Regions from separate parts of the Homo sapiens genome. Here region 2 is linked to region 1. Evidence: fine-mapped expression QTL. A gene starts in region 1. The other region holds a variant in brackets. All regions are shown on one strand. Distances are from middle to middle.

Region 1 (5,384 bases):
TAGTTTTTTCTATTTATACTAACACCTCAGAGACCTAATACATTTCATGGCCTTTGTTTACTGTCTCTATCGTAATGACTTCCAAGTCCCTCTCTTCTCTATTCTTGTGTTGGAGTTCTAATTTTGTACTTCTAAGTACCTGTTGGGTATTTCCACCTGTGTATCTCATCGCTGGCTCAGCCGACAAACACATCACTGAGCTCACCATCTTCCCCTGCTCTTCGGTTTTCTCTCTTCAATTTTCCTGTCTATTAGAGTTCCTGCTAACTCTGTAGTCATTAATGAACCAACCACAAGCTTGTCTCCTTCTTCATCCCCTTATCTGAGGACCTGATTGAGCCTCTGGTCCCATGCCCACTGCCATCCCTATTGAAGTCTCACTGCCAGTCCCTCAGCCAAGCATCCTTACTTCTCATCGAGTTCCACATGCAGACTCCTGACTGACTTCTCTGCATTCCAGCTTCCTTGTGCGATACATTCCTGACCCTCCCCGAATTGATCTTTGTACTGCTTTCATCATTTTCCTCCTCTGCTCCATAATTCCTCCGCACTTCAACCCAAACTCCTCACCCAGTTTAGAAAGCTCTGCTCACGTGGTTCCTCCCACTGTGGACAATGCATCTCCCAACACATTAACACCCACCAGAGGTGATGATTAAGGAGTCCCTTCACTCACGAACTAGACTTGCTGTCTTAGTCTTTTGTGTCTGCTCTTTCTTTCATTCATTTACTCCATTTTTGGGGTAACTACTCTGTCCCAGGCACAGACACCTTAAATGGTCCTCTATTACCTATTCCAACCCTATACAGCTTTCAAAGCTCAGGTCAACTTCCAATCCATGAAGCCCAGGTCTCCCTTCTATCACAAGTCTTTTTCCTCTGAACTCCTGGGAAGCTTAGAGACATTGTCAAACATTTAGGACTTAAACATGTGACATGAGATTTCCTGACTGTGTCACGCATGCTCTCCAGTCTGACTTGTTTGAGTTTCTGCAAAGATCTTTACAGAAGATCTATCTTCTTACCACTCAGCTGCAGCTGGCATCGAGCCCTGGCTGGACTAGTCATGCTAACCCCTTGGTTATTAATCATCGCCATGATTTTTCATGTGTTTACTATAGTATGATCCAGGCGTTGACTATACTGGGCACTTTATGAGGTTGTTATTATCCTCCGTTTTTTACAGATGAGGAAAGTGAGGCTCAGAGGGGTTAAGTGACTTCTCCAGTTTTACATAGTTTGAAAGTGGCTGACTGAGAATTTGAATATAGGTCCGACATAATTCAAATATTGTGCTCTTGACCACTTAACTAAATTAACTCTACTTTCTGATTGATTCACATATGTTGAAATCTACTCATTCTCCTCCTAGTGTCATTATGTTTGTTTATTCTCTCCTTTATATTTTTAAGGCCTGCTGGTCTATCCTTTCCAGGATCTACACTTATGCTGGACCCACTAAGCTGTCCTAGAACATCATAGTAAATGTTCACCAGATATTAATTATTTGAGTGAGAATGGTTGTGAGCATTGGGTACTCCCCCAGCCAGTACCCTTCTCTCTTGCAGTAGTATATTTTGTAGATTAAATAAAACTCAAGATAAAAAAAACAAATTAATAAATGATCAATGGAAACAGAAATTTGGAACATAAAAGTATTATTTCAAAATGAACACATTATATGTAAAAGCTCACAACCAGGAATTTCTTCAGTTGGGTTTGCAGCAATGTTATGTCACTAATACTATATTTCTCTCTGTATGGCCAAACCTGTAAAGCCTCAATATCTGATTATGGAGCACATCTAGACTGTTAAAAAGCTTTCTATAATATTAATAAAATCAAATAATAAATAAAAATTAAATTGACTAATCATAGCAATTTCATTTTGAGAATGTTTTGTAGGCTGAAGGCAAATCCTTGAGATATTTTTGCAGGAGCGTCATTGCGAAACAGAATCTGCAGTAGAACTATGTCATCTTCTGGTTCTGAGTGTGCCCTCTCATTGCTGGCAGATGGCAAGTATTTATTTGCTTGCTAGCTCTTTAGTGGAACTGGTCTTCTGTTTCCACTGTCGCCTCGTGTGACACAAACTGCCACCTATCTCCCAAGGTTCTTTCTTTGTAACAGAACCCTAGTTTTTGGCTGGACTCATTTCCCCAGTGGTAGAGGCTGCTGGCTGGTCATGTCATGAGCCCAGGTCTTCTTCTTGGGCACAACCAGATGCCATTTCTCAGCCTCCCTTGCAGTTATATGCAGCTGTGTGTTTGAGTTCTGGCCGTTAGTGAGTGGAAGTGATGTGTCCCTTCTACTCACACTTCTGTAGTCCTGGCCTACAGAAACTCACAATGGTTCTCTATACTCTTTATCTTTCCACAGCTTAATGCAGTTAAGTAACAAGATCTTGGAAGACAAGTGTTGAAGGTGAAAGAGGCACAAGATAGAAGAAACCTGGGTCCTTAGATCCTTGCTTGGAGGAAAACCACCTGCCAATCCAGAACATCATTTTGGACTTCATGTGAGTGAGAAGTAATCCTGTATCATGTTTGAGCCATTAAGCGTATTTTGATTGCTTGTTCTGATAGCTGTAAGTATCTTACTGATGTAGACATCATAAGTGAGAGACCATGTTTCCTCACCTCCCCTGCTAAGTGTAACCATGTAACTAAATTCTGGCCAATGAGATGTAAGCAGAAGTGTTTTGTGTGACTTTGAAACAGGATGCTTCAAGGAAGCTGATTTGGACGGGATGGGAAAACTTCTGTTGTCTTTTGTTCCCTTTCTTTTATAGTTCAGCACTCAGACAAAATGTCAGGAATTGCTCTGGCCATCTTGCACTTCTGTGAATGGAAACCATTTTCTAAGACAATGGGGTAGGGTGATAGAGAAGACTAGGTTTCTGATGGATGTGGAGCTGTTGGGCCCATCTGGGACTCTTAACCCCATCCACAGTGCTTTTATATTGGAGGAATCTCTTGTTTAAGCCTCTATTTTATTTCTCATAGAGACACACGTTCTTTCTATAGGAGCAAAAGTGACCATTTTAAGATTTGAATCAAGTTATGCCACTTCTTGGCTATGAATCCCTTCCTGACTTCCAGTTTACCTTAGAATTGAATTTATATTTCTACCATGGTTTATGAAGCCCTGCTTGATTTGTCTCCTGCCTACCCCAATGACCCCACCACAATTACACTGGCCTGCCTTCTGTTCTGCTGTAGTGACTGATCATTCACCTCCATGAGGCCCTACTGAAGATGTTACCTTTTCAGGGAGGTTCTCTGACCTCCCACCTACAATGGGCTCTCCCAGCTTTCGTCTGTCTCACCACCGTGTTTACTTCCTACATGGCTCTGATCACAGTCTTTAATCATCTGGTTGATGTATTTATTCATTTGTTTGTCACTATCTCCCCAACTAAAATGTAAGCTCTGTGAGGCAAAGATGGTCTCCAGTACAACGCAGTGCCTGCTGCATAGGAAGCACTCATTACATTATGAAAAATACAGCAAACATGTATGTACATTTGAATATACATAAACACTAGATGTATGTGCATGTGTACACATATATAGTTGACCTGTGACTACTGCAGGAGTTGGGGGCGCTGACCCTCCATGCAGTCGAAAATCTGACTTTTAATATAACTTGGTTTTTGGATTTATAGTGTGTGGATTTCTTTTTAAAAATCTGGCCCTGATTATAAAGAGAGAAAAAGTGGAATTAAATTTAGCCATTATTAAGAATCCAACAAATCAAATATAAGTCACAGTGAATACTAAAATTTTGAGGTGAAAAAGAAAATTAGAACTGGAGATAGACATTATAGTGCCGTCCCAGAAAATGGCAGTATCTAGCCCATGAGAGAGTTTCTTTCATATTTTTTTCATTACATGTACTAAACATAGTGATTGCTTTTTATCTTTTTAAAAAAATCTAGGCCAGTCGCGGTGGCTCACGCCTGTAATCCCAGCACTTTGGGAGGCCAAGGTGGGCAGATCACAAGGTCATGAGATCGAGACCATCCTGGCTAACACGGTGAAAACCCATCTCTACTAAAAATACAAAAAATTAGCCAGGCATGGTGTCAGGCACCTGTAGTTCCAGCTACTCAGGAGGTTAAGGCAGCACAATGGCGTGAACCCGGGAGGTGGAACTTGCAGTGAGCCGAGATCACGCCACTGCACTCCAGCCTAGACAATAGAACAAGACTCTGTCTCAAAAAAAGAGAGAGAAAAAAATATCTAAATGATTATTTGCTCTCTGTTCAAAAATCACTCAGCCAAATAGAATTTCCTGCTGAAGAAAATTATGACATAAAAATTTTAAAATTACCCCACCACTTTTTTTTGTTTGTTTTTTATCTCTGTCAGTTTGTTACCTTTATTCCTGAAAGAAGGACTCAAGACTCATGTGATACTCTAAAATAGATATTAATAGGAAATGTTCCTAGACAATGTGGGTTTGCAAGAGAAACAAAGAATTTATTGTTGACTTGATTACTAGCTCAAAGTAATCAGAAATTCCATGAAAGACACTGAAAGTTGACCTCTTTTAAAACTACTTTCAAAAGCGGAGGTTGATTTGTATTTCTTAATCAGCATCTCAGAACAATGTACATTCTTTTTGTATAGTGTCATGGGCATCTGGGACTTTGGCTTGATCAACATCCACTTCCTCCTGTGATACCAAGACCCTAGTTTTCTTTTAAAGAACCACCCCTCCCTGACTCTCAGTCTTTGTTTTCTGGTGGGGTTGACTCTTACCCCTAACCCCAGGGGTGGGGCATGTGGTCCAAGTCTGGCCAATGAGAATTTTAACCATGCTGGTGATTCAAGAATGAGTATATGTTACATGCTGAGCTTATCAGAACCAACATTGTCAGCCACAGGGGTTATGCTAGAAGTATTGGAAAGGATAAATTCTCTTCTGGGGTGGTTAAACCAATAGAAAATTAGCCTGGAGCTTCTGGTGGACATCTTGTCAAAAAAATAGTGATTGCCTGCTTGAGAATGAAATCAAGAGAGAAGAAGGCAAAGCTAAAGCCTGGAGAATATTCCTGAAGACATTTTTCAAGGATCTGGAACCACCCTTGAACTTTTTTTTTTCTTTTTTTTAGAGACAGGGTCTTGTTCTGTTGCCTAAGCTGGAGTGCATTGGTGCAATCATGGCTCACTGCAGCCTCAACTCCTAGTCTCAAATGATTCTCCTTCCTCAGCCTCCCAAGTAGCTGGGACTACAGGCATGTGCCACTGTGCCCAGTGATTTTTTTTTTTTTTTTTTTTTTTGTAGAGATGAGGTCATGTTATGTTGCCCAGGCTGGTCTTGAACTCCTGGCCTCAAGTGATCTTCCCACCTTGGTCTCCCAAAGTAACTGAATTACA
Region 2 (5,384 bases), 11 kb after region 1:
TACAGGTGATTGTTTCTGGTTCTTTGTATTTTTTAGTATTTTTTTTTATTTTTTTGAGATGGATTCTCACTCTGTTGCCCAGGCTGGAGTGCAGTGGCATGATCTCAGCTCACTGCAACCTCTGCCTCCCAGGTTCAAGCGATTCTCCTGCCTCAACCTCCCGAGTAGCTGGGACTACAGGTGCGCACCACCGTGCCCAGATAATTTTTGTATTTTTAGTGGAGATGGGGTTTCATCATGTTGGCCAGGATGGTCTTGATCTCTTGACCTCATGATCCACCCTGCTTGGCCTCCCAAACTGTTGGGATTACAGGCGTGAGCCACTGCGCCTGGCCTATATTTTAGTGTTCTAAGATTTTTCTACAATGACTCTGTATTGCTTTTAATGTCAAAAATCTCAATAATTTTGAAGGTTATGGTATTTATATACTTTTTTAAAAAATGACAAATGTTCTCCCTAAATCAGAAATGTGGACACCGTGTTTTGGCTTTAGTGTAGTGAGGTGGAGTATTATGATTAAATACTGTGTTTTCAAGCATTAATGACTCAAAGAGCAGGTACTTACAGAGCACCTATTATTGCCATCAACCAGTGTTATTGAGCACTTACTCAATAAGTGTTGGCCTCTGACTTTACGCCTAAGAGTCAGGAGACCACAAAAAAGCAACAATGTCAGGTCTGCAAGGTGAAGGCAAGAAGCTCATGTTCTAGGTACTTGTGACTGTCCTGTAATGCTAAAGAATGAACCATTACCAAAGATTTGGCAAACTCGCCCAAGCTTACTCCTAAGGAGTCTAACCTTTGCCCAAGTATCTAGGACTCAGGCCCACCTGCTTAGCCTGGTCTCACTGAAGTGTGGAGGCAAAGCATTTGCAGCTTCATCATATTCCATTTTGTCTCATAAGGAAATTGTGTTAGTCCAAGAGGCTTGGTGTGTTACATGGTTGTACAGCTTAGTGCTTTCTTAGCACTCTGTTTAAGTGCTGACAACTTGATATTTTCATCAATGGTTGCTATATTTCTCCAATGTTAGGTTGACAGGCTAATAATTTCAGAAGTCAATTTCTCCCTCTCTCTCTCTTCTCCCAGTTTACATATTTCTATTTTCCAATTCCTTTATCTGCATTTTGTAAATACCTCAAAATAGTGGAAGGCAAGGCCTCTAGGATCACTTGGCCCAATCTCCATATAATTGGATCCTTAGGGCTTGCTATATCTTTAAAGAAATTGAGGTCACCTTTTGTCACCAAGAATTAAGCACCTGTTGTGTGACTGATGGAGATCTGTACACAGAGCACATTGCCCAGGGCAGGGGTGATTTGGTTACAGGCAGCCTCTCGATGTATGATAAAAGTTGGCATCAGGTTGTAAACATTTTGCTCACTGTAGCAGAAAGCTCTCTGTGAACGGAGAGCTGTCTAAACAGGGTGGTTGGCCACAGAACCTGCCCAGGGATGCACCTCCTTTCCACATTAGCCCATGGCCTTTCCAGCCCTGAAATCTGAGTTGCATGTGAGTCACTTAGACAGGCCATCTGTCAATTATTAAGCGACATCAGTGGGCCCAGCAATTCCATTCTGCGTAGTGCAAAGGTCCTCCACACATTCCAGGTCTATACCATCAAAGTGGCTATTTTTCTCAACCTATCCCTGCCCTTTAAGAAAATGGGGGTCATTTATTTCCAGGGATCACTATTTACACCCCATTGGCAGGTAGTGGAGCCCAGTGGTTAATAAACAACCTTGTTTTAAATCCCATCTCTGTTGTTTGCAAGCTGTGTGTCTTTCAGAAACTTTACTTAAATTTCTTGAGCATCAGTTTCCTCACAAGGGTGTGGTCAAGTGATAATCAAGTATTTGTACTTTAACCCTGTACCTGGCTGATAGCAAGCCCTCAGAAAAGAATTAACTTAGAGTTTTTATACATTCCCTCCAGTACAATGTTCCTAACATACAAGGGGCATATGTGTGTATTATGAGTGGGAAGAAGGAAGGAAGGATGCAATTGATAAGGCTTGCATTCAACATTGCTGTAGTCAAACCCTCTTTCCTTAGGAAGATCTGGATGTGCCAACATTTCTTATATATCATATGTGGAGGTGACTTAGGTTTTTCTTTCAGTACTTCATCATTTGAAAGAGCATTTGGTGATAATGAGCAGGTTCTGAAGTCTGTGAACTAAACTAAAAGTAAAAATAAATGGGACGGTGAAATTTTGTTTGTGCCTTAAGGGAACTCCCTTTTACCCTCCCACTATGTTGATGATGTCATGTTTGTTCTAACATATCATCTAACAATTCCCTCCATTCATTTTTTTTCTCCTTATTTCTTTTCCTTTCAAGTAACAGTATCTTCAACAATCGTTCGGCTGTTCAGGAACTTAAAAATCATGAGACGATTCTTAAAGGATAGGAACTAACATTGATCACACAGTGTGTAATCCCACATCTATATACTGGCAAATGATGGCACAAACACCATAAAATCTCAGCTTGCTTTGTAGCCATTCTGGATTGCTGAGTTCTAGGCAAGTAAGAGCTGGTCCTTCAAAGCACCAAAAGAAAGAAAGGAAGGAAGGAAAGAAGGGAGGTGGGCAGAGAGGGAGGGAAGAAGGAAGGAGAGGGAGGGAGGGAGAGAGAGAGAAAGAAAAAGAAAGAAAGAAAGAAAGAAAGAAAAAAGAAAGAAAGAAAGAAAGAAAGAAGAAAAAGAAAGAGAGAAAGAAAGAAAAAGAAAGAAAGAGAAAAAAGAAAGGGGGAGAGAGAAGGAGGGAGGGAGGGAGAAAGGAAGGAAGGAAGGGAAGGAAAGAAAGAAAGAGAAAGAAAGAGAGGGAGAGTGAGGGAGGAAGGAAGGAAGGAAGGGAGGGAGGGAGGAAAAGAAAGAAAGAAAAGAGAAAGAAAGAAAGAAAGAAAGAAAGAAAGAAAGAAAGAAAGAAAGAAAGAAAAAGAAAAAAGGAATGGAGGGAGGAAGGGAATAAAGAAGGAACAAAAGAGAAGATTTTGGCAGAACACTTTCTAAAATGTAACTCAACCGCCCCTGCTTTCTTAAAGAGTGGAGGAACTTTATTTAACTTCTTATTTTTTTCTTTTCTTGGTTGTAACATTATCACAAAAAGAACTGATTTCACTGCTATCGGATAAAAAATAATAGGTTTAGGCCATGGTTGGGGGGAGAGAGAGAGAGAAGTGAGAGAGAAAGACACACACACACACACACACACACAGAGA[G/C]AGAGAGAGAGAGAGAGAAAGAGAGAGGGAGAGAAATATTTGCCTGCACACCTGAGAGGTCCCAAATTACTGTGCCTTTTGGAATTCTTGTGCCTGTCTGTTTTTTACATTTTTTTTCTGTTGCTCTCTTCTTTGGGCCATCAGCAGTTACCTCTTGTTAGTGTGCAAGACTATGCAAAGCCTTCTCCCTAATGCTGATTTTCTATTTCTAAATTGCTGTGGGCATAGAGAAACTCACACTGGTTAAGGATATGTGTGCAATAAACATAAATGCTTTTCAAGTCAGGAACTGAGGGCTGGTTCTTCTCTGAGAAAAGCATAAGAAAAGCGTCTCTCAAGTGTTGTTTTATTTTTTAAAAAATTCATTGTTTCTAAGCTATTTTCTAGATATGTGAGGCTAGCAATGGCTCAGTTCTATGTAAATAAAAATATATATTAAGTATTGTCAACCTACCCGCCCCACCCCTGGCAGAGATTGCTTACTCAAATGCTTACATTCGGATGATATATATCTTTCTTGCCCTGAAGTTTTGAAAATTTTAATAGCTCCATGGATTGAAATGACATGAGAGAAAAATATTTCAAGTCTCTTTTAGAATTTTTATGCTCATAAAAATGTTCCCAGTGTATCAAAGGCAAGTTTGATCTCAGAGAAGTCATATCCTCCAAAATCTATCTCAGGTGCTATCTCCCTATTGATGACACTTTCCTCTTTTCCCAATTGGTTTATAAAACTCATTTTCCAAGTGGGCAAAGGACATGAATAGACACATCTCAAAAGAATACATGCAAGTGGCCAACAAACATATGAGAAAATACTCAATATCACTAATCATCAGAGAAATGCAAATTAAAACCACAATGAGATACCATCTCACACCAGTGAGAATGGCTATTAAAAAGTCAATAGGCTGGGGGTGGTGCCTCAAGCCTGTAATCCCAGCACTTTGGGAGGCCGAGGTGGGCGGATCACGAGATCAGGAGTTCAAGACCAGCCTGACCAATATGGTGAAACCCCGTCTCTACTAAAAATACAAAAATTAGCCAGGCCTGGTGGCGTGTGCCTGTAGTCCCAACCACTCGGGAGGCCGAGGCAGAAGAATCACTTGAACCTGGGAGGTGGAGGTTGCAGTGAGCTGAGATCACACCACTGCACTGCAGCCTGGGAGACAGAGCAAGACTACGTCTCAAAAAAAAAAAAAATCAATAAATTACAGCTGCTGGCAAGGATGTGGAGAAAAAGGAATGCTTATACACTGTTATTGGGAATGTAAATTAGTTCATCCCCTATGGAAAACAGTATGGAGATTTCTCAAATAACTAAAAATAGAACTACCATTTGACCCAGCAACCCCACTACTGGGTAACTACCCAAAGGAACAGAAATCGTTATGTCAAAAAGACACCTGCACTCAGATGTTTATAGTTGCACTAGTCACAATAGCAAAGAGGATGGAATCAACCTAAGTGCCCATTCCTGGTGGGCTGGATAAAGAAAATGTGGTACCATGGAATATTATGCAGCCCTAAAAAAGAATAAAATCATGTCCTTTGCAACAATATGGATGCAGCTGGATGCCATTATCCTAAGTGAATTAACATAGAAACAGAAAACCAAATGTCATGTTCTCACTTATAAATGAGAGCTAGACAATAGGCATACGTGGACATAAAGACAGAAACAGTAGACACTGGGGATTCCAGAAGGGGAGACAAAGGGAGTGGGGTAAGGGCTGAAAAACTACCTATTGGGTACTATGTTCACTATTGGGGTGATGGATTCAATAGCAGCCCAAACCCCAGCATTATGCAATATACCCTTCTAACACACCTGCACAAGTATACCCTGAGTCTAAAATTTTTTTAAGTTAATTTTTAAAAAACTCATTTTCCATGACTGGTCATTTCTGTTTAAGATTCTATTGGTCAAAACTGCTATCTAGGCAGTTGCCAGTCCTTCAGGATTTCCAAGCAGAAACCATAATGAGTATTAAAAATCAGTGGGCTGGGAGCTCTAAGTCCCCAAACACATTCACAGTCAACCATGTGATGTTCCCCATTGACAACCCACAAGCAGAGGCAAGCTGCGGGGTGCCGCCCGACCAGAGCAGATTGCAGCCAGGCTGGCCTTCCTGAAAGACACACACACTGGTCCCTGGA

Alleles and levels. Alleles are on the strand shown, and positions count from the first base shown. SD is a standard deviation of normalised expression in the study named.
For the expression in subcutaneous fat of the gene that starts at base 2,082 in region 1, C is the high allele of the variant in region 2 and G is the other (moderate effect, 0.44 SD a copy in TwinsUK).

Evidence for each region. PIP is the estimated chance that this variant, and not a neighbour inherited with it, causes the effect. A credible set is the group of variants that fine-mapping cannot tell apart.
Region 2: its variant is the best candidate, but not a certain one, in a credible set for the expression of LINC00184 in subcutaneous fat (TwinsUK, PIP 0.81).

The regions. Positions count from the first base shown.
Region 1 is chr1:234,627,230-234,632,613 of GRCh38, forward strand. LINC00184 (long intergenic non-protein coding RNA 184) reads left to right here and starts at 2,082. Exons shown (of 2, transcript NR_033927.1): 1 at 2,082-2,518.
Region 2 is chr1:234,637,876-234,643,259 of GRCh38, forward strand. No RefSeq gene overlaps it. Among named protein-coding and RNA genes, the nearest start is that of LINC00184, 11 kb to the left of the region's middle. RefSeq lists a silencer at 5,248-5,384 and an enhancer at 5,248-5,384. The variant G/C (reference allele first, on the strand shown) is at 3,225.